3 linked regions of the Homo sapiens genome follow. The protein of the gene in region 3 interacts with the protein of the main gene of each other region in a pairwise test. Each region holds a gene or a part of one and is shown on either strand. Other genes may lie near its edges.

Region 1 (3,749 bases), on a different chromosome or scaffold from region 3:
GAAACACAAATAAATTTAAACTATAAATTAGAAACACAAACATAAGTGGCTCTAACATTCAAATGAAGTAAATGAATTGTGTAGGATATTAACCCCTTAAATGTTTTGTTTTTTTTTTTCAATTTCTTGACCCGCTCTTAGATGATGGTGATGTTTAGCTCCCTGTTCTCGGCAGCCCGAAAAGAATGGCATGCAGCCTCTCCTGCTCCTCCTGCCGCCTCTCCTGTACCAACAGCTTCTCCACTCAAGCCTGGGTGCTCCTGGGGAGTCCTGCATTAGAGGAAGCAGCTGCTGGATCTGCTGTGCAGTGGGGTTGTCATGGGGGAGAACCCTCCCTGTCCTCTCCCGGTGCAGCCTCCATGCTATCAGTGAGGCTCAGCTCACTAAGATCTTCAGAGAGAGGGAGGGGGTGGGAATCTGGGCACAGTGCGAGCCTCCCCTGCTCCTGCCTGCCCACCCCGCCTGAGGGCTCTACTCACCACCCTGCTTGTCCGCACATCCAAGCTCCTTGTGGGACTGGGGCTCCAGCTACTGGTCTGGCTGCTGCTGCAGACTCGGAGCCTCTTGGCTCTTCAGCTCCACCTGCCGGAAGACCCTGGGCATGAGGACATGTGGTGGCTGGCTTCCAGATTCCTGGCCCATTAATAGGGTAGCGAGGGCACTGTGGGGCTCTGTGGCCTGCCCAGGCCCCTGGCCCCTTGCTCCAGGCCTAAGAGACTGTCTCCCTTGCTTAGAACCCCATGCCTCCTTCCCTAGCATCAAATCTCACGTCCTTTTTCCCAGCATGTAAACTGTAGGCCACAGACTGGTGGAAAAGCAGGCGGAGCCAACCACCATCTGCTAAGTGTGCTACATGCCTAATGTTTCCACGTATTACCTCATTTAATCCTCAGCACCTCTGCAAGGAAAAGGCTAACTTCCTTTTGAAGTTAAAGAAACAGAGACTTAGAGATGCAAAGTAGTTGAATTATGACCAGTGGAACCGAGGCCGGAATCCAGTTTGAATCTAAGGAGGCTTTTTTGTTTTTCTGTTTTGTTTTGTTTTGAGAGAGTGTCACTCTGTGTCCCAGGCTGCAGTGCAGTGGTGCAATCTCAGCTCACTGCAACCTTCATCTCCCGGGCTCAAGTGATTCTCGTGTCTCAGCCTCCTGAGTAGCTGGGATTACAGGCATGCACCACCAGGCCTGGCTAATTATTATTATTATTTTTAATTTTAGTAGAGATGAGCTTTCACCATGTTGGCCATGTTGGTCTCAAACTCCTGACCTCAAGTGATTGTCCTGCCTCAGCCTCCCAAAGTGCTGGGATTGCAGGCATGAGCCACCACACCCGACATAAGGAGCCTCTTATACCACTGTCTCTTCCTCTGTGATTGGGGGGCTCCATGCCTCTAGCTGGGATGATGATGTCCAGACCTGGGAGGACCCCAGGGCTACCCACCTCTAAAAGTCAGAGGGCAGGAAGCAAGAAACAGTCATAGGACTGCCCCGGAGGGTGCTGGGGTCACCTGTCCCCAGGCTGCAGCTGCCTGTGGCCTGGCACCTCCCCTCCCCAGAGGCTGGTGCCCGCCTCCCACATCTTCTTGGATGGGTCGGAGGTTACAGTCTCTTTCAGCTCACCCGACTTCTCCAGCTCCTTTACTTGCTGCTCCAACTGCAGTGTGCTCTTGTTCTCGTTGTTCTGGACAGAAAGAAGCAATCAGTGGCCACCCACTAAAACTGGAGACCCCAGAACTTAGTGTCTGCCTCCCATGGCACCGGGAAGGGTGGAGGCAGGTTAGAAAAATATCCCCTCTCTCCCACAGCCATCAGAGCAGGGCTCTGGCTCACAGATGCCTTTAGAAGTACCATTTCATGTGAAGGCTACAATGCCCCATTTTACAGGTGGGGAAACAAAGGCCTTGAGGGCTAGGGAAGAGGGCAGCCTCCCCAGGTGGGGCAACGCACCAGCTCCTCGAAGCCGCTGCGTGGCTCGGCCCGCTGCTCGTACAGGGCTTCCCACCCCAGCTCCAGCATCCTCTCCAGCTCCCGCAGCCTCTCCAGCTCCCGCAGAGTCTCCTGCTGCCACAGCCTCTCATCCTGTTGCCGAAGCCTCTCCTGCTCCAGGAGCTCCTCCACCTCGTCCAGCAGCCTCTCCCTCTCCAGCAGCCTCTCCTGCTCCTCCTGCCGCCTCTCCTGTTCTAACAGCTTCTCCACCTCTTCCAGCAGCCTCTCCTGCCCTGGCAGCTTCTCCTGTTCACACAGCCTCTCCTCCTGTTCACGTAGCCTCTCCTCCTGTTCACACAGCCTCTCCTCCTGTTCACACAGCCTCTCCTCCTGTTCACGTAGCCTCTCCTCCTGTTCACGTAGCCTCTCCTCCTGTCTCCTGTTCAGGAGACTCAACATCTGATTGTTTTCCACCTCAGCCTGGAGCTGTCTTCCCACACTCTCTAGCTCCTTCCTTAGGTGGTTGGTCTCATCTTGTAGCTGCTCCATCTTAGATGGCCCTGCTGGGGGCTGTGGGGCCAGGGGTTCAGCTGAGAAAGCAAGCAGAGAATAAGGGCCTCTGGATTCTCAAAAAAAAAAAAAAAAAATCCTCCCTTTGGTGCACAGCTCCTCCTCTCAGGCTTCCCAAACTTGGCCTCACTGCTAATGACTCCTCACACCCGGATGGTAGACAATCTTCCAAGTCACTTTCAGATAGAGAGCACTGTGGGTGGCTGACAATGGGCACTCCTCCCTCTTTACTGATGGGGACACTGAGGCTCATGGAGATGACAAGACTTGTCCTCCCCTGGCACAGACCTCTTTCCCTCTGCCTCAAAGCCCTTCCATCCACCCACCTCCCTGGGGCATTCTAAGTCACCCCCACAGCCCTCTAATGCCAGTCCAGCTGCCAGGTCATGCCAGCCCCATCTTACCCGTCTGGTTTTTGAGTTTGAACAAGCTCCTCCCAAGCTTCTGTACCAGATGTATCTCATGCTTCTTCTCCTCCTTAGATGTGCGAACCTGCCCAAAGCAAAGGGGGAAAAGGGTACTGGAGGGAGGGGCTGGTGAACGTCCAGAGACAGAGTTTGAGAAAGGCCCACCCCCCTTCTGCCAGTTTGTGATTTAGAAACGTGCATTCATTCAACAAACATTTACTGAGCATGTACAGGCCAGGTACAGTTCTTCATAGCAGAGATATAAAACAGCAAAGGACAGACAGGAGCCCTTCGCCCTGAGCTTTCCATTCTAGGGGCCTTTAAATCTCTGACTTTCAGAGCTAACCGAGACCTTTGATACTCTCTACCTCCTCCAGAAACACGAGCATAAAGAGGAGAGATGGCTTGTCCAGACTCAAAAAGCAAATTAGGGACTGAGGCAGGGCAGGAATATGGACCTCTGACAACCAGTCAGGCTAGTGCTTCCCAGAGAGGTGACAACCCCAGGGCATGTGTGGCAAGGACTAGAGCAGGGGTGTCTGGAGAAGAGAGAGTCAGCAAAGAGGGCAGTGCAGAAGAGCCATGCTGCATGTTCTGTGCTCTGGGGTCCCTCCAGGTGAGACCTGGGTGCCCAGCTCCCCATTTGCCCTTGGCATCAGGGGCCCCTAGCCCCTTTCTTCAGGGCCCCAAGAGGAAACTGGAGTCCAGGATTGACCAGCTGTAATCAGGGGACCCCACTGGACTCTTACCAGTGAATTGATGTTTTCAGTGAGTTGACTGATTATTGCGGAGCTTGAATCCAGGGCTACTGCTAGTTCTTGGTACTGGCTCTGAGGTGCATGCAGAG
Region 2 (3,749 bases), on a different chromosome or scaffold from region 3:
TTTTCAATTAGCACTCTTGTAGGCTTGAAAAGTGAGAGCTGGGAGAAACAGTGTGGAAGATTGTGAAAGAAAACATTAATTGATAACATCGTGTCTCTTCACATAGATACAGGGCAGCTAATTAAGTATTGACCCAAAAGTGGTTTTCCATTTTGAGCATTTTGCCAGTAAGACTCTCCTAAAGCTTTTTTCATCTCAAGAGTATAAACTATATTATTTGTTTTCTGATGAGTCTTTGAAAACTTAGAATATTACTATTATCCTTGATTTTAACCTACAAATATTTTGCCCCTGAAAAAATAGCTAAAAGTGTGAACTGTTATATTACTACAGATTCTTACAGTCTAGCCATGCAAACATAACTAACAATAGATGGTTCCCCACACCCCCAAAACTGTCAAAGGAAACAATTACAAAGACTGTGATTAATACTGGTTTGGCCTCATTATACAAATATGTACAGACAGCGAGGCTGATGTCCCCAGCACTCATGATGCAATTAATTACTCTGACAAGAGTTTGGCAAAGTTTTCATCCACTGTCAGGAGCCAGTGAGTGAAGGGAAGCTAATGGTCTACAAGTTTCAGAGGAGCATATTAGGGACCTTTAGAAATCTAACATTTTATATATGAAGAAACTGAATCCCAGAGAGGAGAAACATCTTGCTTGAAAATATCTGCGTAGATGAGTACAGAATCCAAGACTAGAACCACAGATATCTAAACTCTCTCATTCACTGGGTTTCTAAAACATTGCTCTAAGGAAGAGGTGGATGGGGGAAGGGGAAAGCACTAAAAAATCCTGAAATAGAGCATTAAGATACATAGGAAGTAAACAGATAAAAATTGTAATCCAGGAATTATAATGTTATAGAATTTTAGCTCATTTTAAAATTATTTTGATAAATATACAGTGGAAGAATTACCCTACCTGTCTGTCACCTTTCTTGTAGCTGAGTAGTACCTAGAGACAAGTGGAGCTAGGAGGAGGCCATGAGGGTGATTTTAAGTTGAAAGGTGACTACCTTATATAAACTATTAAAATGCATATGTTGCCTGATTTCAATGATAATATTTGGCTGTTTGAGTTTAGGGAAAAAAAATCTTATGTGACTGTATTTTTATTAATATGAGAAATGTTCTTGATTATATGCACATAATACATCTCTATACATGCAGATATCCTTAGTTAACACTTGAAGAAAATTGGTTTTGATTGACCATACATTCTTCAGACTAAAGTAGGGTACTCATTTTCCCTCCTCAGGTTTGTCCCTGATAGTTGCTTTTCTGTGTTTAGCTGATGATTTTCCTACCTCCCATTGTTGCTGAACTGGAACAGGGCCATGTTTCTCATTGAAATGTTATGTAAAACATCTCAATGAGGTTGCCTGCTTACAGCTTTATGAGTTCTTCAGTTTACATACACCCTGCACTCACTTTAACGCTTATGAAACCAAAGCATTTTTAAAATCCATAGCGCTAACCCCTTCCATTCAATACTTACTTTCTTGGTGTTATTTTCCTTGTTTGTTTTTGTTTTTGTTTTGTTTTGTTTTCCTGATTCTACAGGTCTTAGAACTCCAAGATGTTCCATAAGTGTTTTTACTTGTGAGGAATGAGAAGCCATCCATGGAAATTTGAACTGAGTGGGGGCAGAGAAAGAGTGCAGATCCCTTTGCTTGTGAAAGAATTATCAGTGAGTGAAAGGCCATCACCCCAGGAAGCCAAATGAGGGAGCAGCAACATGTATATGAGCTTCCTATGGAATTGTCCTTATGTGAAGCTTTGAAGGTGTACAGCCACTCTCCCGGGTCTTCAGGTTCCTACCATTTCCATTTCTGTTAAAGTGGATCTGCATATCTTCAGCTTACTAGGTGACCCGGATGCTGACATCTGCTGCTGCAGAAAGGAAGACTTTTCATTGTAATTTCGCTTAGACCCTTTTATCAGTGGAGCTCCAGTTTTCTTACCTAGCTGTCACTTTTTTAAATGCCTCTGGGGGTTATTTTTGCTTTCCTTGGCCCCCACCAATTTATACATCTCCATTTTCTGACCTCTGGACTAACTGGTTGCTCAGCAAGGTTCTGAAGGAGAGTTTCTTGCATTGGACAGGCCCAGTCTTCTCCCATCATTGCCCTGCTGTGACTCCAAAGAAAGGAGCTTCTTGCTGACAGTGCCCTGTGGAGCAAGGCTGTGTTTCCTACCCCACACGGTGCTCAGTGGGTGCCAGCCCTCAGTGTGGCTTTGTGATTGCTGCCCTAAAGGAGAATGCTCTTTCCTTCCTCACTGGTACTGCCTGCTGTTTTCTAAGCATTGCTCCTGCACAGACATGGAGTCCCAGCCCCAGCAAGGCTCTTCTGTTCCCATCTGTTGACAATGTCTTGTGGAGCATTTTTGCTGAGGAAAAGGTCACTTGTAAACAGAGGAGAAAGGGAAAGAGTACAAAGCCCTAAGTTTATTGTAAGTGAAAACTGAGGGAATTCCTGTCTTCTTTAGGAGTAATGATTCATAGATCTAGATAGGTGGAAATATCATTCAAAATAGTCACTTGAGCTCACAAAAAAAGCAAGGAAGAATTCTCATGTCCTTTGTCTTCCTTCTGTAGCCATTAACTGCTGAATCCATGTGAGGAAGACAGGCTTCCCTTCCTTCCCCCTCCTTAGTGATTTTTTCTTTAACAGCATAAGTAAAGAGGACTTTCTGGTTCATTTTTGTTTGTTTTGTTTTGTTTTGTTTTGTTTACAGATGAGGTCTTCCTGTGTTGCCCAGGCTGGAGTGCGGTGGCTATTCACAGATGCTATCATAGCACACTACAGCCTACAACTCTTGGGCTCAAGCATCACGCCTAGCAGTTTCTGGTTCCTTTAACAGCAAAAGGAAAGAGAGGTTCTGATTCTTACCTCAGGGTTTTTTGGTTGTTCATTGTTTTTGTTTTTGTTTTTGTTTTGACACTGCAGAGCACAAGGCTAAAGGTTACAGCTGAGATCTTTGGAACCAAAGGCAGAGCAAGCAGAGCCCGTTGTCTGGGCCCCACACCACTGCAGGCAGGTGGATAGAAGTGCGGCCCCTCTCATAGTATGCCCATAAGTCAGGGCATAGGGCAGAACTACCTGTCATGTTGCTACACCATCCTGTCTTCTCAGCATCTCCTTGCCTGTTTTCTTTATTAGTCCAAAGGAAAACAACAGCAACAAAATCTGTTTTTAAAATGTCTTATATGAACATATATCAAATATCCATGCGCTGAAACCCACATACCATCACTTGGCAATTTTTTAGAATAAGACCCCATTATTATCTATTGCTATAAACCTAGCCAGTTCTCTTGCTCTTCTGTATTTTCCTATTTCCCTGCCATCATCTGCTATTTCTGCCACTTCTCTTAGACTCCTTGTCTGCAAAGCCCAAGCTAGAACTCACTGTCTATGGCAGAAGGACATCCAGAGCCCATTCTGGAGTTTTGTTTTTTCCTTCTGCCAGATGCTTTGTGTCCTGTCTTCCTTCCTCCTCATATTTCTGTTTCTCATTTGTGTTCAGTTTTGTGCAGCATTGCTAGCACTGCTTTTGTGACCAGAAAAGGCCATAACATGGTCCAGGATCATCATTCTTCTGACTCTAGATGGGACACTTGACAGTGACTTGAAACATTTGCATATTCAGGAATGCATGAGATTTCAAGAGAGCCTACAGTATGAAATCATTTTCACAAAATAAGCAGCTTGCTTCTGAAATGCTGTCTTTCCCAGT
Region 3 (3,749 bases):
AAGTCTTGCTAAGAAAGGGAAAGGGGAGGGAAGAGAAGGGTAAGGACAAGAGGAATGCAGATTCCAGCGTTCTCATCTGCCTCACTCCCCATCACGATGTCTTCAGGCAGTATGTCACGTGTGGGGGGCCAGTGGCCCCAGAAGCCCTTCAGCCTTTGGCAGCTTTATCACCTCAATCTGAAGAGCAGCTCCAATAACACCCCACTGCAGCAGAGGGCAGCAGTGATCCTGGGCACTCCTGTGGAACTGAGGGCTCACTCCCCATGCCACCAGGAAGCTGCTAACAAGGCTGGCCCAGATGCCACCTCACAAGGAGTAGGAAAATGGCACACCCAGACTTTCAAGCAGAGCCTGAGCTGCCAGGAGCATTTAGGCAAAAACTAAGGAAATTAGACAGTATCTGACAAAGGAGTGAAAATAAAATGGGGTCATGTACATAAAGCCTCTTATGTAGGTGTTTCAGATACTAGTGTTTTTTCCCTCCACAGGAAAGTACCATCTGCAGTTCCTGAGATGTCTTCCTGGAACTGTTCAGTATTACAGTTCTCATGGCTTATCTCTACTCCACACTCAGGCAAAGATTTTTAAATCTCTCCCTTTGGCAGATTGTTTCTGACCTCCATCCTCTCCCTTCGTAATTCTCTAAGCACAATTCCTAGTCAAAATTATAACGGAGGCTGATAAATCCTGGAGCTCTCTACTTGGGACCTGAGAAGGATGGGAGAGGGCAAACAGCACTAAGTTCAGCTGCTTGGCACCTAGATGGGTCCATGGAGTCCACAGACAGAACTGGATTAAAATCTCAGCTGTGTCCCTTGCTTATCAGTGAGACCCAGGGCAAGTTACTTAGTATCTCAAAGCTTCAGGGTTTTCATTTCATAGAAAACATCTCTAATACATTACTATGAAGACTAACTGAAACTGTGTATATAAAGTACCTAGCTCTTCCTCCTGCCCATTTTGGGTTTGTGTGTTTTGTTGTTGTTGAGACAGGGTCTCACTCTGGCACCCAGGCTGGAGTGCAGTGGCAAGATCATAGCTCACTGCAGCCTCGCCCTCCCACGTTCAAGTGATCCTCCCACTTCAGCCTCCCAAGTAGCTGGGACCACAGGCAAATGCCACCATGCCAGGCTCATTTTTTCCACACCCATATATATATTTTTAATGACAGGGTCCCACTATGTTGCTGAGGCTGGTCTCAAGTGATCCTCTCACCTCAGCCTCCCAAAGTGCTGGGATTACAGGCATGGGCTATCAATTTTGGTTAAAGACCTAGGCAACACTTCCACATGCAGGTGTTAAGAGGTTAAGGGTCTGTGCAACTGTTGCCCAGCTAGCACAGATAAAGGGAATGAATATAACAAATTCAGAATTATAATACCCAACTTGCTCTTGACATACCAGTCTCTTGTTATGTTCATATTCTTTCTTGACAAGGGTAGTAAGGAGGTCATGCCTTCTTAGGGCTTCTTCTATCTTGAAGGGGGACATGAAGTTAAGTAGGTTAATAATGCTGTTCACTAAATTCTTAAGGATAAGCTCTTCTCATTTAAATTCCTATGCTTAAGACTGACAGTAACTTACTTCATCTTGGAGTTTCTTCTTTGATCGATTTTCTCTACATGCTTCTTTCTTAAGCTGTTCAACCTGTGCAATTTGCTGTTTCCACATTTTGCTTAGTGTTGGGCCAGAAACATAAAGAAACGGAAACTGCTCCAGCATAAGGGGCAGGAGACTGTGTTCACTTACTTTCACTGCAAGGTAAAATAAGATGTTCTTAATCTGAGACGTGGACAAGAACTGTCATCCAACATCCCTGGTAGATCAAAGCTTATGTAAGTGATGTGGTTTTGATCCTGAAAAGAACAATTCTAAATGTACTTATAATAATTTGCATTACTCCTCTGATTGGAGTAAGCCAACTACTGGTAAGGATAAAAATAAGCTCAATAGTTCTGGATTGATGCCATGCTGGTCCTGGGAAGTCCATCCTAATTGCTCAGCCGCTTCAGTGCCTGTGGGTAGATTCTCTACGTACGGTAAAACAAGACTCCTCAACCTTCCCGGTAGGCAAGTGCTTAGAAGAAAAAGTTTCTGGTCTAAAGGATAGAGTAGGAGGGCCAGCAGTCTTTGGGTGTAACAGGAAGCCTGGCATTTCTCATGACTTTGTTTCTTGTAACAAGACTCTACACTCATTGGCACTGTCAATATATAGGAGGTGGACAGGCCATCTGCTTGCCTTGGAGCATCCCTTTCATTCTACCAACCTCCCAGAAATAGACAAAAAGGCAGTCAAAGTGAGTAAGCACACGAGTGAGGCTAACGCTGGAGCAGCAGGTGGCAGTCCTGGCATTCCTTGGGTGCCAATATATAGGCCTCCCTGAAGTACTTCCTTATTGAAGAGTTTTAGCCCTCTACGGAAAACCAGCCACATGGCAGTGATTGGGAAAAAAAAAAAACTTTCTTCGGCTAACTGGTGGATGTTAGCTTTCAGTGCTGTGTCCTTGGAATGTTGCACATGCTTTCAAAGGTTGCCAGTTTTCCATAAAGTACAATTCTGTGGTTCTTACTTGGAACTGCTTTATTTGGCTTTGGGAGGCCACCTCTTAGACTCTGCGTTGTGGTTTTTCTAGAGTAAATCTTCCAGGGCTGACTACATTCTGGAGTTCCTTTACGAACAGCTTCTCCTCTGTATATTTTTTCCTTAGAAGCAGATATAAAACAGAATAAAAATAAAAGGTCTAACAGTTCTTTCATACATCATCTTAAATATTACATACTGACAAAAACAGCTAACGGTAGTTTTTTAGTTTTTTAGCTAACAGTAAGCCAAACCACCTTACTTCAAATTTGTAAAATCTGGTTAATATTCATTTACTCTAAGTTAAATGCACCTTTTGGCCTCTGGCATCCCTTGGAATTTGAAAAAGCACTGAATCTTTTTCAAGTTTCAGTCACCATAGTCCCACACCCTAAATACAACCACTATTAATCTTTTTTTTAACCATTAATGTTTCAATGTACTTCTCTTTTTCCATGTAGATTTAAAAAATTCTCAGGCAACTATGCAGTATGCTTAGTTGTAACCATACTGTACTTTATATCCTGTTTTGTTCATGAATATTTTAGCATAAGCATTTTCCCCATGATTTCACTTAGTTTCTGTAACCATTCTTTTGAAAGGCAATGAAAACTTCTGTTTTGGGTTTCTTACAACCAGGTCTATAGCCAACTAGGATGTTCTGTCTTCTCTTACTCTTCTTTAATTTTGTCAGCCTAGAGTAGTTTTTAAGCCCCTGGTGAACTGCTAAGTCAAATAAACCCTTAAAAACTGATGGGAAGTTTTAAGTAGCGGAAAAACACTACTTTTCTTTGGAACCATGTCTCGTCATATTTTAGCAACCTGAATGCCTTATTAATAAGCAAGTCCTGTATCATGACATGAAATCCTGCCTTTTCCTAAAGAGCTCATGATTAAGGCCCTGTTGGCCCCTTCTTCTTTTAAAAAGATCATCTTTGTACTTCCCACTCATCTGATCAAATGGCATTTATTACAGTGGAGACTTTTACCCACTGTTTCCTCCTCCTTCTCATGTATTCTTAGAGGTCCAATATTCTCTTGAACTTTATGTCTTCTTAGTTCCCTTTCAAATGCTTCAGTAAACGCCTAAAGGGGAAAAGGTCATATATTACAGTTATTAAAAACATACACAACGGGCAGCACCATGGCTTAGCTGGTTAAAGCACCT

The links.
Region 1: the proteins of CEP95 (region 3) and GOLGA6L9 interact in binary tests that used the Homo sapiens proteins (3 or more experiments, as listed by UniProt).
Region 2: the proteins of CEP95 (region 3) and HMG20A interact in binary tests that used the Homo sapiens proteins (3 or more experiments, as listed by UniProt).

The regions. Positions count from the first base shown.
Region 1 is NC_000015.10:82,432,800-82,436,548, reverse strand, and holds part of GOLGA6L9 (golgin subfamily A member 6-like protein 9), read right to left. Parts: exon of another isoform or gene 3,733-3,749; coding exon 3,652-3,732; intron 2,988-3,651; coding exon 2,900-2,987; intron 2,516-2,899; coding exon 1,947-2,515; intron 1,681-1,946; coding exon 1,620-1,680; intron 583-1,619; coding exon 480-582; intron 271-479; coding exon 138-270; 3' UTR 1-137.
Region 2 is NC_000015.10:77,481,399-77,485,147, forward strand, and holds part of HMG20A (high mobility group protein 20A), read left to right. Parts: exon of another isoform or gene 1-1,571; 3' UTR 1,572-3,749. UniProt on the Homo sapiens protein: Plays a role in neuronal differentiation as chromatin-associated protein. Acts as inhibitor of HMG20B. Overcomes the repressive effects of the neuronal silencer REST and induces the activation of neuronal-specific genes.
Region 3 is NC_000017.11:64,530,844-64,534,592, reverse strand, and holds part of CEP95 (centrosomal protein of 95 kDa), read right to left. Parts: intron 3,668-3,749; coding exon 3,575-3,667; coding exon of another isoform or gene 3,571-3,574; exon of another isoform or gene 2,704-3,570; coding exon 2,571-2,703; exon of another isoform or gene 1,755-2,570; coding exon 1,585-1,754; intron 1,477-1,584; coding exon 1,402-1,476; intron 9-1,401; coding exon 1-8.